Linked DNA regions of Homo sapiens. The protein of the gene in region 1 interacts with the protein of each later gene in a pairwise test. Each region holds a gene or a part of one and is shown on either strand. Other genes may lie near its edges.

Region 1 (7,023 bases):
ACAGAGCCTTCGTTTTCTTCCCACCCTCTGAGCCTCCCTCCCTTCTGGTCCCTCTGTCGTGTGCCCCCACTGCCTGGACCTGATGTCCCCAGAGCTTGCCTGCCACACCCCAGATCAGGCCCGAGGCCTCCCCACTAAGGGAACCCCGGATGGTCCCCCCGTCGTCATTGACTCGGTGCTGCTTCTTGAAAGCAAGCCTCAACCTCTGGTTTGTGTTGGAGTCGCACGGGGGGCAGACCCCTCCACCCACTCCCAGAGACGCTGAGCAGGGCCGCAGCAGGGACCAGGAATCTGTGCTGTTGATGAGGACCGCGCCCCCCCGGGGGACTCCAGTGGAAGCAGCGCATCTGCATTTGCAGCCAAACTGGCCGAGCGCTGCCGCTCTGCCTCCACTGACCCAGTCACCTGCTCCCACCTCCTCCCAAGCCACCCAGCATTTGCCAGCGGCCCGGTAGGAGTCATGGCCCCTGCTCAGGGTGCCTCCCCCTTGGCCAACTCCCACAAATCTGTCTTCACACCCAGACTCAACAGCACCTCCCCGGGAAGCCTTTTCTGACTCTTCCCACTGAGCCACGGGTCTTCCCGTCTAAAGCAGTGGGCCTGGAAAAGGGAAAGCTGGTCAAATACAGAATCCCGGGCTCAATATCCCTGAGGCTAGTTCAGTCACCTGGGGTTTGGCACACAGGAACTGGCCTTTCTAGGTTCCTTGAGAATTCTGTGCCTCCTTCTATTATGACAGGGCTTCTCAAATGTCAACGGGCACGGGAGCCTCCCAGGCATCTGCTTACCGTACGGTGTCTGAGTCAGGAGGTCTGGAGTGGGCTTGGGAATGTACATTTCTGACCAGCCCCCAGAAGACGCTGCCACCACTGGTCAGGGGACCACAGTGGCAATGTACTACAGCCCCGTCCTTGAACTCGACCCCTCAGTGGACTGTGAGTGTCAAGAGGCTATGGGCTGGCCTTACTCATTTTTTCTATTGCCTCTAGAATATAAGCTCTCTGAGGTTAGGGATATTTTTCCCTGTGTTGTTCCTGGCACATGGAATGGTGCCTGGTCCACAGCAGGTGTGCAGTGAACACGTTTGTGAATGAACGAATTTCTCTATCTGTGCATGGTGCAAAGTCAGTGCTTGGCCAGTTTGGCTGAAGCAAGGAAGGAATGAATCAAGCGGCCCCTCACCCCCCAGCTGCCCCGGAGGCACTCACAGCTCAGGGCCAGCAGGCCAGCGTCTGTGACCGGGGTCTCGCACAGGTTCAGCACCTGGAGCATGGTGAGGTGTTCCGACAGGAGCCGAAGGCCAGCGTCTCCAAACTGTAGAGCACAGAAACTCTCAGCCCTCTCCCGGCCACTCCTGGGGAAGTGACTCTGAGGCTGGGGCAGAGGTGGAGGAAAGGGATGGGGACAGAGCCTGGCTCTGAGGCCCATGGCCCACCAAGCCCTGGGGTCTGGGCTGCGTTCACGTCCCCTAAACAATCCCACGCCTCTCTGAACCGGGTTAGAATCCAGCTTCTGCTGTTGGGAGTGGAGCCAGGCCAGGGCCCCCTTGGAGTCAGTTTTGCCTCCATGAAGGAGGGCTTTGAACTTGTCTCTCCCTAGCTTCGAGATGCTGCCTAGGTGGCTTTCTCCTGCTGGGTGGACAGTGGAAGGACAGGGCTGGGCCGGGGGCAGGCTGCAGGGACTGTCCCCAGTTTCTCCTCTGGAAAATTAGGGTGAGGGTAGAACCTGCACTTCACAGGTGTGCAGTGAAGGCCCCTTCATCTGCCCTGTGCAGAGTACTGAGCAGTGCAGTTCACACTGAGCTGGGACTCAGCAGCCACTGGTGTTACTATAACAAAAAGACCCAGAAGCCTCCTGCGCAGCCCCCCGCAGGCCAGCGAAGCCTGGCTCACGTCTCAGCTCTACCTCTCAGAACCTCAGGACTCGGAACTGGGCACATTATTTCCAAATGGGAAATGGGCTGCAGGGCTTCATGAGGTCCTCAACCTCCTCTAGCCTCAGGGAGTGGGTGCTGAGCTTGAGGGAAGGGTCGTGTGGTAAGCAATGCCTGGGGTGTAGGCAGGGAAGCGGGTGAGGGGCAGGGAGGAGGGTGAGGGGGCAGGGAGGAGGGTGACGGGGGCAGGGAGGAGGATGAAGGGGTAGGGAGGAGGGTGAACGAGTTAGGGAGGAGGGTGAGGGGACAGGGAGGAGAGTAAGGGGGACAGGGAGGAGGGTGAGGGGGCAGGGAGGAGGGTGAGTGGGTGGGGGGGTGAGGGGGCAGGGAGGAGGGTGAGTGGGCAGGGAGGAGGGTGAGGGGAAAGAGAGGAGGGTGAGGGGGCAGGGAGGAGGGTGAGGGGGCAGGGAGGAGGGTAAGTGGGTAGGGGAGGGGGAGGGGGCAGGGAGGAGGGGGAGGGGGCAGGGAAGAGGGTGAGGGGAGCAGGGAGGAGGGTGAAGGGGCAGGGAGGAGAGTAAGGGGGGCAGGGAGGAGGGTGAGGGGGCAGGGAGGAGAGTAAGGGGGACAGGGAGGAGGGTGAGGGGGCAGGGAGGAGGGTGAGGGGAGCAGGGAGGAGGGTGAAGGGGCAGGGAGGAGAGTAAGGGGGGCAGGGAGGAGGGGGAGGGGGCAGGAAGGAGGGGGAGGGGGCAGGGAGGAGGCTGAGGGGAAAGGAAGATGGTACGGGGGAATAGGGAGGAGAGTGCAGAGGTGAAGGAGGAGGGTGTGGGGGACTGCAGCAGGGCGGGAGGACGTACCTGAGTGGACCACAGGTTCAGCTGCTTGAGCGAAGGCAGTTTGATGAGGTGCTCGGCGCAGGCACTGGTTACATTGGTGAAGGCCAAACTGAGGTTCTCCAGGTTTCCGAAGGAGCCGGAGCTCAGCAAACGAGCCAAGTCAGCGTCCTGCGGGCAGACGGGGGAGAGGCCTGAGGGTGCTGCTGGGAGTTCCCGAGACCCTGAGCCCTCCTATCCCCTATCCTCCTCCTCTCCCCTCGCCCTACAGAGAGCTGTTCCTGGGGGGCGGTAAATCCCAGGAGCTGAGATGGGGGCACAGCTCGGTGGGATGGGCCAAGGGGGTGGCCAGAGAGGGAGGGGCTGCCACGCATCCCATGGACGACAGCTGCCAGGCGGAGGAGAAAGCCTCCAGTGCTGTGACTCACACCCTGAGGCACCAGCGGGGTGTTCCAAGGCCACGATCCTCCCACAGGCGTCTGTGTGTGTGTGTGTCTGTGTGTGTGTGCCTGTATGTGTGTATATCTGTGTGTGTCTGTGTGCACGTTTGTGTATGCATGTGTCTGTACATGTGTGTGTCTGTGCACGTCTGTGTATATTTGTGTGTGTGTGTGTTGGTGTGTCTCTGTGTGTCTGTGTCTGTGCATCAGGGTGTGTGACTGGCTGCCTCACTCCTGGGCAGCAGCTCATGCCAACACTGAGGCCACACTCAACTCTAATGCCTGAAGACACCAGCGCATGCCTGAGCACCGGACTGGGAGGTTCCTAAGACAACCTCCACACTCCCCTCCATCCTTGAGTGTCAGCGGCCCTGTGGCTGCCCGGAATGAAGGCTGATTTAGTGTGTGGCCCCACACACTAAATCTGGAAAATGGGATGTAAGTAGACATGTCAAGTAGAACTTCCAGGAAGTTTCTTAAGAGGAAGGGGCACGTTCTCCTTCCTGCTGGCTGGAATGGAGACAAGAGGTCTGGAGCCTGAGCAGCCCTTTTGGTCCAGGAAGTAGAAGCCATGTGTCAAATATAATGGGGGCATCAGAATAGAAGGAAATAAGACCCTTAAAGACCTTGTGAAATGCGAATGGTAAGATACACAAGCTTCCAAGGGTTGCTGTGAGGATAAAACAAACTAATAGAAGAGCATCTGACACACAAATGCTCAAGGTATATCTGCTATTATTCCAAGTACTATTAATAACTAGATATCAACACTATTATCACCAACAATCTGTATCATATTTTAACTTCCTTTTTGGTTTTCATTTCTCTTCCTGTAACCCAGCTACCTCCTGGAAGAGCTGGCGTGTTAAGTACTAGGGGGTCCTTGTGCCCCGCCCTCCATCACCTCCCATCTCAGCAGCAGACACCACCTGCCGTTCCCCAACAGAGAGGACCAACCCACCTTCTCCATCCAGCCCCAAAGAGAACCAAACCAACTCACTGTGGACTTGGAGGGCAGTGTTAGCCTGGTGGGCCCGCCTTTCCTTTGCTGCAACAGAAACCAGGCTGGTTACAACCATTCTTTTCCCCAAGTTTCCATTCTAGACTTCCACCTCTGTTAACAACACTCATGGAGCCATCGTTATTTTCTTGGTGGTACAAGGCAACACGGTGGTCTTGGTCTCAGGGGCAAACCCGGAGATGAGGTTTGAGCACAGGTGGTTTACTGGAGGGTGATCCCAAGAAACACCAGTGGGAGAGTGGGGAAGTGACACTGTGGCTACCTATAATGGAAGGGGTGTTATCAATCCAGCTATCACTGGGTGGGTACTGGCACCAAATCCCACCGGGGGACTCTAAGAAATGGTGGAGAAGCCATGTCTCAAACATATCTCACTGAAGGGGTGAGGGAGCTGGGGTATTTCTACACACTCTCCCCAGAAGGGACTGGTTGAGGGCTGCTCCAGGAGATCAGAAGGCATGAATTTCCTGCCCCTTCCGTCCTTCTGTGTACACATGTGTGAGTATATGCATGTGGACATACAAAGTCCTTCAGCAAAGAGGTGTGGGTGCTGGCATTTGGAAGTTGGGTCCCCCATGTACTGAAATGGAAGGGTCTAAGGGACATGGAGGAGGGAGGGTGGGCAATGTCCTGGCCAGGCCCCAATGAGCTGTGTGACTCTGGGGATTGCTTTGCTTCTCTTTGATTACCTGAAAAGTGGCAGGTGGTAATACCAATTTCTGGGGTTTGGAGGAGAATTCAACGAGATTGAGGTCCACTCAGGTCCAAGTACTAGCTGCCCCGCATCCCGCCCTGGCCCCCCCTGGCCTGCTGGGCAGGGGAGTGGTCCGGAGCAGCCGGGGACTCACCAGCTCCTTCAGCTCCCGCTGCCGGTCACACAGCTGCTCGTACATGCGCTTCCCCACGTCTGTGCTCTCCAGGGTTGAGATGATCTGCAGTTGGGTGTCGTTGTTGTCGATGATGTTGTATTCCAGCATCAAGCACAGGATCTGTCCAGAACCGCAGGGGTGCATTACGGACCCGGCCTGCCACCCTAGCTCAGCACACTCTGTGCACCCCAAGGGCCTTGTTTTGAAAACCAGCAACCCCACTATCCCCTTTCTGCAGCCCCGGCTGTGTAAGCCTGGGCAAATCACCTGCCCAACTTCCTGCTTGTACAATGGTAGCACCAGTGACCACGCACTGAGGTTCTCCAGGTTCAAATGTCAATGGACATGGGAGTCTCCCAGGCATCTGCTTACCGTGCGGTGTCTGGACATGGGGCAGGCCCCCGGGGGATGTTTGCAGGCCCCTGAGCACTGGTGGAAAGGCCAGAAGTTAAGACACCTCTCTCTCCCCAGTTCCTTCCCCAGTGGCTGTCATGAAGTAGGTGCTCAAACTCACGGAATGGCTCAGAGCCCTGGGCCCATCTACCACACAGCTTCCTAGAGGGCCTCATGACTGCACATGTGGCTCTTCGGCCTGGGGGTCAACACGCCTGACAGCCCTGCCTCTGACATTCCCTTTCCAATGACGATTTTTTTTTTTTTTGAGATGAGGTCTTGCTATGTTGCCCAGGCTAGTTTCAACCTCCTGGGCTCAAGTGATCCTCCTACCTCAGCATCCCAAGTTGCTGGAACTACAGGTGCATGCCATGGTGCTCAGTTCTAGAACTTCTCACTCACCAAGGAGCAGGTCACTCAGCCCACGCTTCTCACAGCGCCTCTTGCCTGTCTCCTGTCTCCCTGCTCAGCCCTCCCCCATGGCCTCCGAATCCCTGTCACAGGACAGCCAAGATTAAATCCAAACTCCTTCCCAGCACCTCTAGGTACCCAGAAGGCTCTTCATGCCCATCCAGCCACATCCCAGACCTCTTGCCCCTTGGCTCCCTGTGTTCCAGCCACCCTGGCCTCCAGCAAGCCTCCGCCCGGGATGTCCCCACAGCCTGCTCAGCTCCCACCTTCCCGCTGCCTCTTCCCCAGGGCTCACATCTGCCCGAACTCTCATTTCCACGGGAGCTCCCATGGCTTTGCTGCGCCTGCCAACTCTTCGATGCTCTTCCCACTGAGGGGTGAAGTCTAGCTCCCACGGCTTTGACTGAGGGCCGGCCGCGGTGACTCACTGCCAGCAGGAGGATGTGGCAGAAGTGATGCCGCCTGCCTTCCAAGGGAGGCTAAGTTAAAAAGTGACATGGCTTCTGCCTTGGTTCCCTTGGGACAGTTGCTCTGGGAGTCTCAGGCTTCTGGGGACTTTGGGACAGTTGCTCTGGGAGTCTCAGGCTTCTGGGGACTTTGGAGCGTGCAGGGAGAGAGAGGAGCAGCAGCAGGTGAGGGGTGACCTGTGGGGCTGGGTGTGTGTGTTCTTGGCAGGTGGACAGGCTACCTGGAGGCCACGAGGTGAAGGGTGCGGCTGGGGAGCCCCAGCCGCCAAAGCCCTCATTGTCTGAGGCCTCTTAGGCCAATGCGAGAAGCCTTGGGGCTAACCCAACCTGGCCCCATCTGACTGATGAGGCCCCAGGTGAGAAGTGCGTAGCTGCGCCCAGGTACCCCAATGCCCATGTGCAAAAGAAATGAACGATCTTGTTTTAAAGCCCTCACTTAGAGGTGGTTTGTTACACAGCAATAAATGAGCAGAACAGAAGCGTCCCCAACCCCACTGATCAATGGATCAGCTGGATCACAACAGAAACAAATACACTGCATGATGAAGGCTCGAGGCTCCCACTAAGCTCAGGACGGCTGGGACTGCACGCCTCACCCACTGCCCCCCGTGCCTGCAGCAGCTCCTGGCTCCCAGCAGATGCTCTATCGGCACGGACAAGGGACGGGGAGCCAGCCACCCCACCAGGGACCCCGACCAGCTCCTTACCTCCACCATGGT
Region 2 (7,683 bases), on another chromosome or scaffold:
TACATCTCTTTACATTTACAATCCCCTTTACATTCCCCAGTTTACAATATAAATGTGTTAAATATTTCCTCTACATATGCTGAGACCACACTAGATAACAGTATAAATTTAGCTTCAATTATCAAAATACAAGAAATTTCAAGAGGAAAGAGAAAGTCTACTGCATTAACCATGCTTTTGCTTACTGTTTATTGTTTCTTTTCTGTTTTCAGAGCTTACTATCATCTTTTTTTAGGGTATATCTAAATTCCTTAGTATTTCTTCATTGGAGAATGTCTTGATTACCCATTCAATACTGAAGGATATTATTATTGGACATAGATTTATGGGTTGTCACTTCTTTTCCTTCAGCACTTACAAAATGCTAGGGCATCGTCAGTTTCTGATGATAAATCTGTCATTCTAATTTTTTTTTTCCTTTGTAGCTTTTGTTTCTCTTCAGCTGTTTTGAAGAAGTTTCCTTTTTCTTTCATTTTCAGAAGGTTGATTACAATGTGTTTTGGAGTGTGTTTCTTTGTGTCAATTATGTTGGTGTTTGCTCCTCTTCTTGAATCTAAATGTTTATGTCTTTTGCACAATTTGGGAAGATTTTAGTCATTATTTTTCCCAATACTTTTCCAATCCTGCCCTCTTTCTCCTGGGAATTTGTTGGCATAAATGTTAAAGCTTTTGTTATAGTGCCACAGTGATTTCTATTGTTTTATATTTGTAAGCTATTTTTTCCCTCTCTCTTCTCCACCTTACTGTTGAACCTATCCATTGAGTTTTTTGGGGTTTTTATGTTACTGTATTTTTCAGTTCTAAAAATGTCACTTTGTTCTTCTTTATGTTTTATATTTCTTTGTTGAGACTTTCTATTCATTTTCTGAGATTTTCTACATTATCATTTGTTTCAAGTGTATTGTAACTGCTCACTGAAATGTTTTTAGGACAGGTGCTTTAAGATCCTTATCAGATAATTCTAACATGGGTGTTATCTCAGTATTGGCATCTGTTTATTTTCTCTTCTCATTCAAGTGGATATCTTAGTATGGAAAGTGATTTTTGATTAAAAGTTGGATACTCTGGATCTTATTTAAATCTTTTGTTTTAGCAGTCCTCTACCACTCTCTTGGATGGAAGAGGGACAGTAGAAGTCCAGTTTCTCCACTGTCTCTTGACATCCAGTTTGGAGAAGGGCTGTTTGTTACTGCTGTTTAGAGGTGAAAGTTTGGCCTTCTCTCTGGGCCTATGCTGATTCCATCCTAGCTGGTTGAGGTAGAAACTCCTAGTTACCACTGGTAAGGGTAGAAGTCATGGTTCTCCATATGGTCTTCACTGGGAGAGGTCTATTTTCACTGGGGATTAAAGTCCTTGCTCACAACTGGTCCTTCTCTGGGCATGGGGTGGTGGTTCCTTTGAAGCTTGGTGAGAGTGGAAGTCTAGGCTCTCCATTTGCAAGCCTAAGCTTCTGACTAGCTGCATCGTTATGACAGCTGGCATTCTACTGTACTAAGGTGTCTCACTTTCTAGCTAGCTTCTGATGCTTTTGCCAAAAAAAAAAAAAAAAAAAAAAAAAATTGCAACATATTCCCTTCTCCTTTCCAGACTTTACCTGGGACATAGTGGGAAAAGGAATACCTTTGCAGGCAGACCAACAAAATGTGGCAATTTCAAGCTGCGTGGCTGTGGGAAAATCACTCAAATTCTCTGGGCCTCTATTTCCCCAGCTGTAAAGGAGGAGTAGGAAGCTCACAGGACTCTTGCTGAATGAGCAAAAGTAGGTCAAAGGGCCTGGCACACAGGGGCGGGAAGGGACTCAATAAATGATAGTTCCCTTCCTTTACCTCTCCTGTAGAAAGAGAGATGCAACCCCTCAAGAAGAAGAAGAAACCAAGGTGCTTTACCTACCACCACTAATCACCATGTGTAGGTCTCATCCAGCACTCTAAGGGTTAAATCTCATGATCAAAGTCTTATTTCTTAAAGAAACACACTTGACATCTTCCACCTTGGGTTCTCAGAAAACACTCCAGGGAGAGAGCTTGACCCAGGCCACTCTCAGAGTGAGAGCAAAAGCCAAAGCAGGGGCTCACGCTGAGAAGGCGAGGTGAAGAAAGACCTTGTGCCAGCCCACACAGCCCGCCTGGCGCTATTGTGTTCTGAGCAAGGACAATATCATCGCTTTGCCAAAAGCTGCTCCAGGAGCAACCGTGTAGCGGACTCCACTTCGGCAACTCCCACTTTGCCAGCCCGCCTGTCACCTCCAGCTCCTCAGAGCAGCTGTCGCGATCCCACCATCAGCGCAGCGACCGCGTCCCCAGTCCCCATTGCTCCCATCCCCCTCCCAAGCGCGGGATAGGAAGGAAGAAAGTGGCGAGTGAGTGAAAGGAAAACGAGCGCGCGCCATTCTCCCAGCTCCGCCCGCTGAGATTCCTCTGCAACCCCCAGTTGGCAGCCCCTGGCAGCAGCCACCAGCCCCGATGCGCTAGACTTGGCTCTCAAAAGCCTTTCCCGAACTCCAGGTTCTGAAGTTGAACAAGAGACTGGAAAAAAATCCCGACTCCTAAAGAGCAAGGAGCCAAAGACACCTTGGGGCACACAAGTACTTTTAAAAAACGTGTCCATGAATGCAGAGCCCTGACCTCCACCTCGAGAAGAATAAAACTGTCTTGGTACCAAACCCGTGTTTCTTCATCTTTGCTTTCTCAGCCACATCTGGCAAGAGGTCTCTCTCTCTCTCAACTCTCCTCAGCGCCCCTCCCATCCTCACCTCTCCGGCAAGTCTGTGGTGAATGGGCCCCTTTCCAGCTCCTCTAGACAAACAGCCCAACAATAGATAATTAGCCCTCTCCCGCAACGAAGGGTTGGAGAGGGGCGGGGAGGGGGACAACGTGCCACTTACCTGATCTCTTTAATGCTTTCCAATTTGCACATGATTTCTTGCTCATCTGCCATACTTTTCACTGTCAATTTCACGTCCCGAGAGATGTACAAATACACCAGCCAAGGGATACAATAGACACAATGTAGCCACCTCCTCCGGGCTTGGGGCTATGAGCCTGTGCGGTAGGGGCTTGGAGAGGCCTGGGAGCTGTAGTCCGGAGCTTCAGGGCCAGCCAGGAAGCCCGGGGGCCTGTAGGACTACAACTCCCAGAAGGCCAAGCGAGACATGCCTGTTTCCCTTCCTGCAGCCGCACTTTAAATCAATTTGTTATAGATAATTATGTCAAAGGTTGTGAAGAGTGCAAAGGAATGGGGATATTCGTCTGGCCCGTGTGTGGGAAAATGGAGAAAAAAATATTCCTGAAGGCAATTGGAGAGATGAGAGACATACCCATTCGCTCCCTTCGGGGGCCCTCGCACCTACCCACCCGCAAAAGATTAGCGGTAGTCGCTAATTACGCCTTGGGGATGGAAAGAAACCCTGCAGGGAAAGTAGCTTTGGAGACGTTGAATGTGCTAGCTGCTGCCTGGGGACCAGTAACTTTGGCATTCAATTTAGGGTGGGGCGGGGGTGGGGAAGAGGAGGATGGGAGGAGGGAGATGCTGCAAAAGCTGGGGGAAAGGAGAGTGGGTAAGTACTTCCAGCTACTTACCCATTCAACAAACAATTACTTAAGCTCGGACTTTGCCAGTCAATGGAAGAAGTACTGTAGGAGTCACCGGGCAAGGCAGATAAATAAAAGCAAATCCTTGCCTTTGAGGAACAGAAGAGGCTGAAAATTTACCTATTAATTACAGTACAGTGTGGTGTCAAAATACAGGAATAGATAAGGTGTAACCTGTGCAGAGAAGATGTAAATAGGTCTCAAGAGTGACTAAGAATTTGTCAGACCATAGAGGAGAATGGGCTCTCCAGGTGAGGATACAATAGAGAGAGAAAGGAAAGGATGAGTGGTTCAGAGTGCCTGAAATATAGGTTTCTTATATGAGGTGTAGAGGTGGAAAAAAGAAATGGGAGATGTAGTATTTAGAAAAGGCAGGTAGGAACCAGACTATGAAATACGTTAAATGTCAGACTAAAGGGTTTGGACTTAATCCTGTAGGCAGACATTTATCTAATAAACTTTTAAATTAATTAATTTATTTATTTATGAGACAGTCTCACTCTGTCGCCCAAGCTGGCGTGTAATGGCACAGATCTCGGCCCACTGCAACCTCCTTCTCCTGGGTTCAAGCAATTCTACTGCCTCAGCCTCCCGAGTAACTGGGATTACAGGCGCCCACCCACCATGCCCGGCTAATTTTTGTATTTCTTAGTAGAGATGGAGTTTCATCATGTTGGCCAGACTGGTCTTGAACTCCTGAGCTCAAGCAATCCACCCGCCTCAGCCTCCCAAAAGTGCTGGGATTACAGGCATGAGCCACTGCGCCTGGCCCTAATAAACATTTTTTAAGTGCTTATTCTGCACCAAGTAATGTTTAATTATTTTATGTTTCAAAGCACGGTAGTGATAAGGATGGAGGAATATTTTAGAGAGGGACTCTGGAAGCAAAGTGGAGAATGATTAGAGGACATGAGACCAGGTAAGAGGCAGTTACTCAGCGTGCACAAACAGGCCTAGAGAGCTGGACGTTGGGCAAAAGGAAGATGGTGACTCACTCCCAACTAAAAGTGAGTCAGAACTCTCTCTGAGTTTGTGCTTTCTTTTATTGAGCTTCAGTTTCCTCATCTGAAAAATGTACCTAGTGAGCCCACCTCAGAGGCTTGTTGGGAGGCCTCTATGAGATCATTCCCATGATCATGCTGAATACAGGGCTTGGTATTTTGTAGGAGCTTGAGAAGTTTGTGGAACATGAATCTCATGTCATTCTGGATGTCCACAGTGATTTTAAGCATTCTCCAGGGAAGAAATTAAAGCCCTTCTCTTCTTTGGATCCAAGATGTAATAACTTTCTTAACCATAAAATTCTCCCTGGTGTCTACATTTTCCTATTGTCTTGAAGGTTGCTATCTTGTACAGCCACTAGTTGGTATTTAAAGAACATTGAGTTGGTTAGTCACAAAGCCTGTGGATCCAGAGCCAAGAACTGGCCCCAGCTCTGTCCCGTAAGGGGAGGAGGTAAGCAACAAGCCTGCGTTAAGTGCCTGACATGTACTGGCTACTGTGCTGAGTCTGATATGTACAATCTATCATTTCATCCTCACAACCACTATGAAGGGGGCAAGTAGATTCATCCCCTTTTAGAAGGAAGAAAACTGACTCAGATAGGGAAAGTTGTTTTGCCATGTCCACACAATAAGTTATAAAGCTAGAGCCTGTGCCCAGTTTGGACCAAGTTACTTGCAGATTAATGAAGAGAGTGTGTCTGGAAAAAAAAAATATATATATATAGCAACCAAAACTACAATGGGGTCCCGAGTGTATGTATCTATGTCAAACATAAAGTGGTTTATAATGCATTAATGCTGGCTTGGGGAGAAGCGGAGGGTTTGTATGGGATGTGTGGGAAGCAATTTATGAACAGCCTTTGAGATTTTAAATTTAATGTCTCTCTCTTTTTCCATTGTCCCCTTCACCTTAAGAATCCTTACCACTGACTATGTTCACACATCTGGTAAAAGTCTGGATGTGGGTATGTATCTGTTTCAATTAAATATGTTAATGGGTTTAGAGTCTGATTTGGTAATAATTTGGGAACTATCTTGTCTTTCAAGCCTCACCGAAATCCTAGTTTACAGATGAGGAAACTGAGACCAAGAGAGGCAAAGGACTTGTCTGACATCACCCTACTTGGCTGAAACAGAACCAAGACTCCTGACTCAAGGGCCTGTGCTCTTCCTATGGCCCCATGCGGCCTGTATCAAGCTGCTGCTGCTACCATGGGGCCTGAATGCCTCTGTTACTTTTCAGCCAGAAGGTGCACTCCAATATAGGGTGTCTGCAGAGGGCCAAGCATGTCCCATGCTTCCAACTATGGACATTTAAGGGAGATAGCAGTTAATCTAAGAGAAGAGGCCATGGGAAAACCTGGAGCTTGGAAGAAGGTTTGTGCTATTTGTAACAATTAAAATGTCCAAATACAGAAAGAGTAATGTGCCTCTTAGCTTCTGCTGGTTTGCTTTTGGCTCCTTGACCTCCTTGAGAACAGATGTCTCACCTGTTCCTTGCTGAATTTTAAGAATCCAGGCTAGCAGTGAGAGGAAGGAAAATGTTGTAGAGAAACAGTGGGGAAGAGAAGGAAACTATAGCCTTCTGCCCCTTCTTCTGAAGCAGCACTTAAAACAGTATCTGCAAGCCAAGGTGGTGGCTTTTCCATAGTAAGTGTTCAGTAGCTCTCAATTGATCAGAAGTTTGCAATGGCTGAAACAATATTTAAGATATGGGCTAGCAGTGAGTTCTAATGCATGATTTTATTAGAAGAACTGATTGATTTGAGGGGTTAGAAATAAAAAAAAATCTTAGTTTTATCAGGGCCAACATTATTCTTATTGCTAAGGCAATAAGGCAGGGTATGTTGGGGTTAATACCATTAAAATGCAAGAAATTAGCAAAAGGGAAGCCAGTCAGTCTCGATTATACTTTCAGGGAATAGATCAAGACTTTAAAAATGGAGGCCAGAATATTGAATTCACAGATATTTCTTTGTACTTCAACAGTGAACTAAACTAAAAGGAGGCAGAGATGCAACAACAGTCTTGGTTCCAAATTGCCTTTCAAAAAGTAGTGCAAATTACTTATTAAATTTCTCATTATATTTCTTAATCAGCATTTCTAAGAGAAAAGTGAGCCAAAAGTTTTCAGCCCAAAAATGTTTATTGTGCACCTATGATATGTCAGGAACCATCGAGGTTTCAGTGAAGATTTCATAGCAGATACGACAGACATGGGCCCTGCCCTTACCAAGCTTACCATTTAGTGAGAGAGACCAGCTATTACAAAGATCATGCATACATATATAGTTATACCTAGCAATCAGGGCTTGAAATAAGTCTAGGTTCTGTGAGCAAGACACACACACATAAGGGGAGAACCAATTTAGTCCTGAGAAGTGGGCAAGGAGTCAGGGAAAAGCTTCCTGAACAAAACTAGGCAGGATGAGAGAGGAAGGGAGGGAAACAGCAGGAGGTATCGAGGATTAATTCATGCAAACAGCCAACAAATATTTACTGAACACTTACTACATGCCAGGCACTCTCCTAGGTTCCAGGGATATATAGTGCTTTGCATGTATTAAGTTAGTTTAATCCTTGCAAAAACTTCACAGGAAGTATATATTATTATCATCCTTATTTTACAGAAGAGGAAGTTGAGGCACAGAGAAGTTAAGTAACTTGCCCAGAGTAACACAGCTAGTAAGTGGCAGAACTGAGATTCAAATTTAGAGAGTCTGCCTCCAGAAGCCATGCTCTCACCTACTATGTTCTATTAGTTACCCAAGATCCCAGTTCTTAGGAAGTTTACATTCTAGTAGGAGGAGCCAGACAATAATGACAGAAAAGAAAAAAAAATAAACATAATAATATTTGGGGGAGATAAGCCCATAAGACACTAATTGAGGATAATAGGACAGAATGATGGCAGGAGGGGGAATGTTTTAGTTAGGATGGTCAGGGAAGGCTCCTGTTCAGAGATGACATTGTAGTGGAGACATAAGGAGTTGGGCATACAATGATCTGGAGGAAGAGTGCTCCAGGCAGAACGAATAGCCGGTGCAATGGTCCTGAGTCAGAAAATGCTTAGCCTATGAAAAAAAAAA

The links. The genes of interacting proteins can lie anywhere in the genome.
Region 2: the proteins of CMIP (region 1) and ZC4H2 interact in binary tests that used the Homo sapiens proteins (3 or more experiments, as listed by UniProt).

What each region holds. Positions count from the first base shown.
Region 1 is NC_000016.10:81,699,790-81,706,812, reverse strand, and holds part of CMIP (C-Maf-inducing protein), read right to left. Parts: coding exon 7,012-7,023; intron 5,154-7,011; coding exon 5,013-5,153; intron 4,192-5,012; coding exon 4,144-4,191; intron 2,875-4,143; coding exon 2,728-2,874; intron 1,315-2,727; coding exon 1,209-1,314; intron 1-1,208. UniProt on the Homo sapiens protein: Plays a role in T-cell signaling pathway. Isoform 2 may play a role in T-helper 2 (Th2) signaling pathway and seems to represent the first proximal signaling protein that links T-cell receptor-mediated signal to the activation of c-Maf Th2 specific factor.
Region 2 is NC_000023.11:64,973,441-64,981,123, forward strand, and holds the start of ZC4H2 (zinc finger C4H2 domain-containing protein), read right to left. Parts: upstream 3,011-7,683; 5' UTR 2,938-3,010; coding exon 2,885-2,937; intron 1-2,884. UniProt on the Homo sapiens protein: Plays a role in interneurons differentiation. Involved in neuronal development and in neuromuscular junction formation.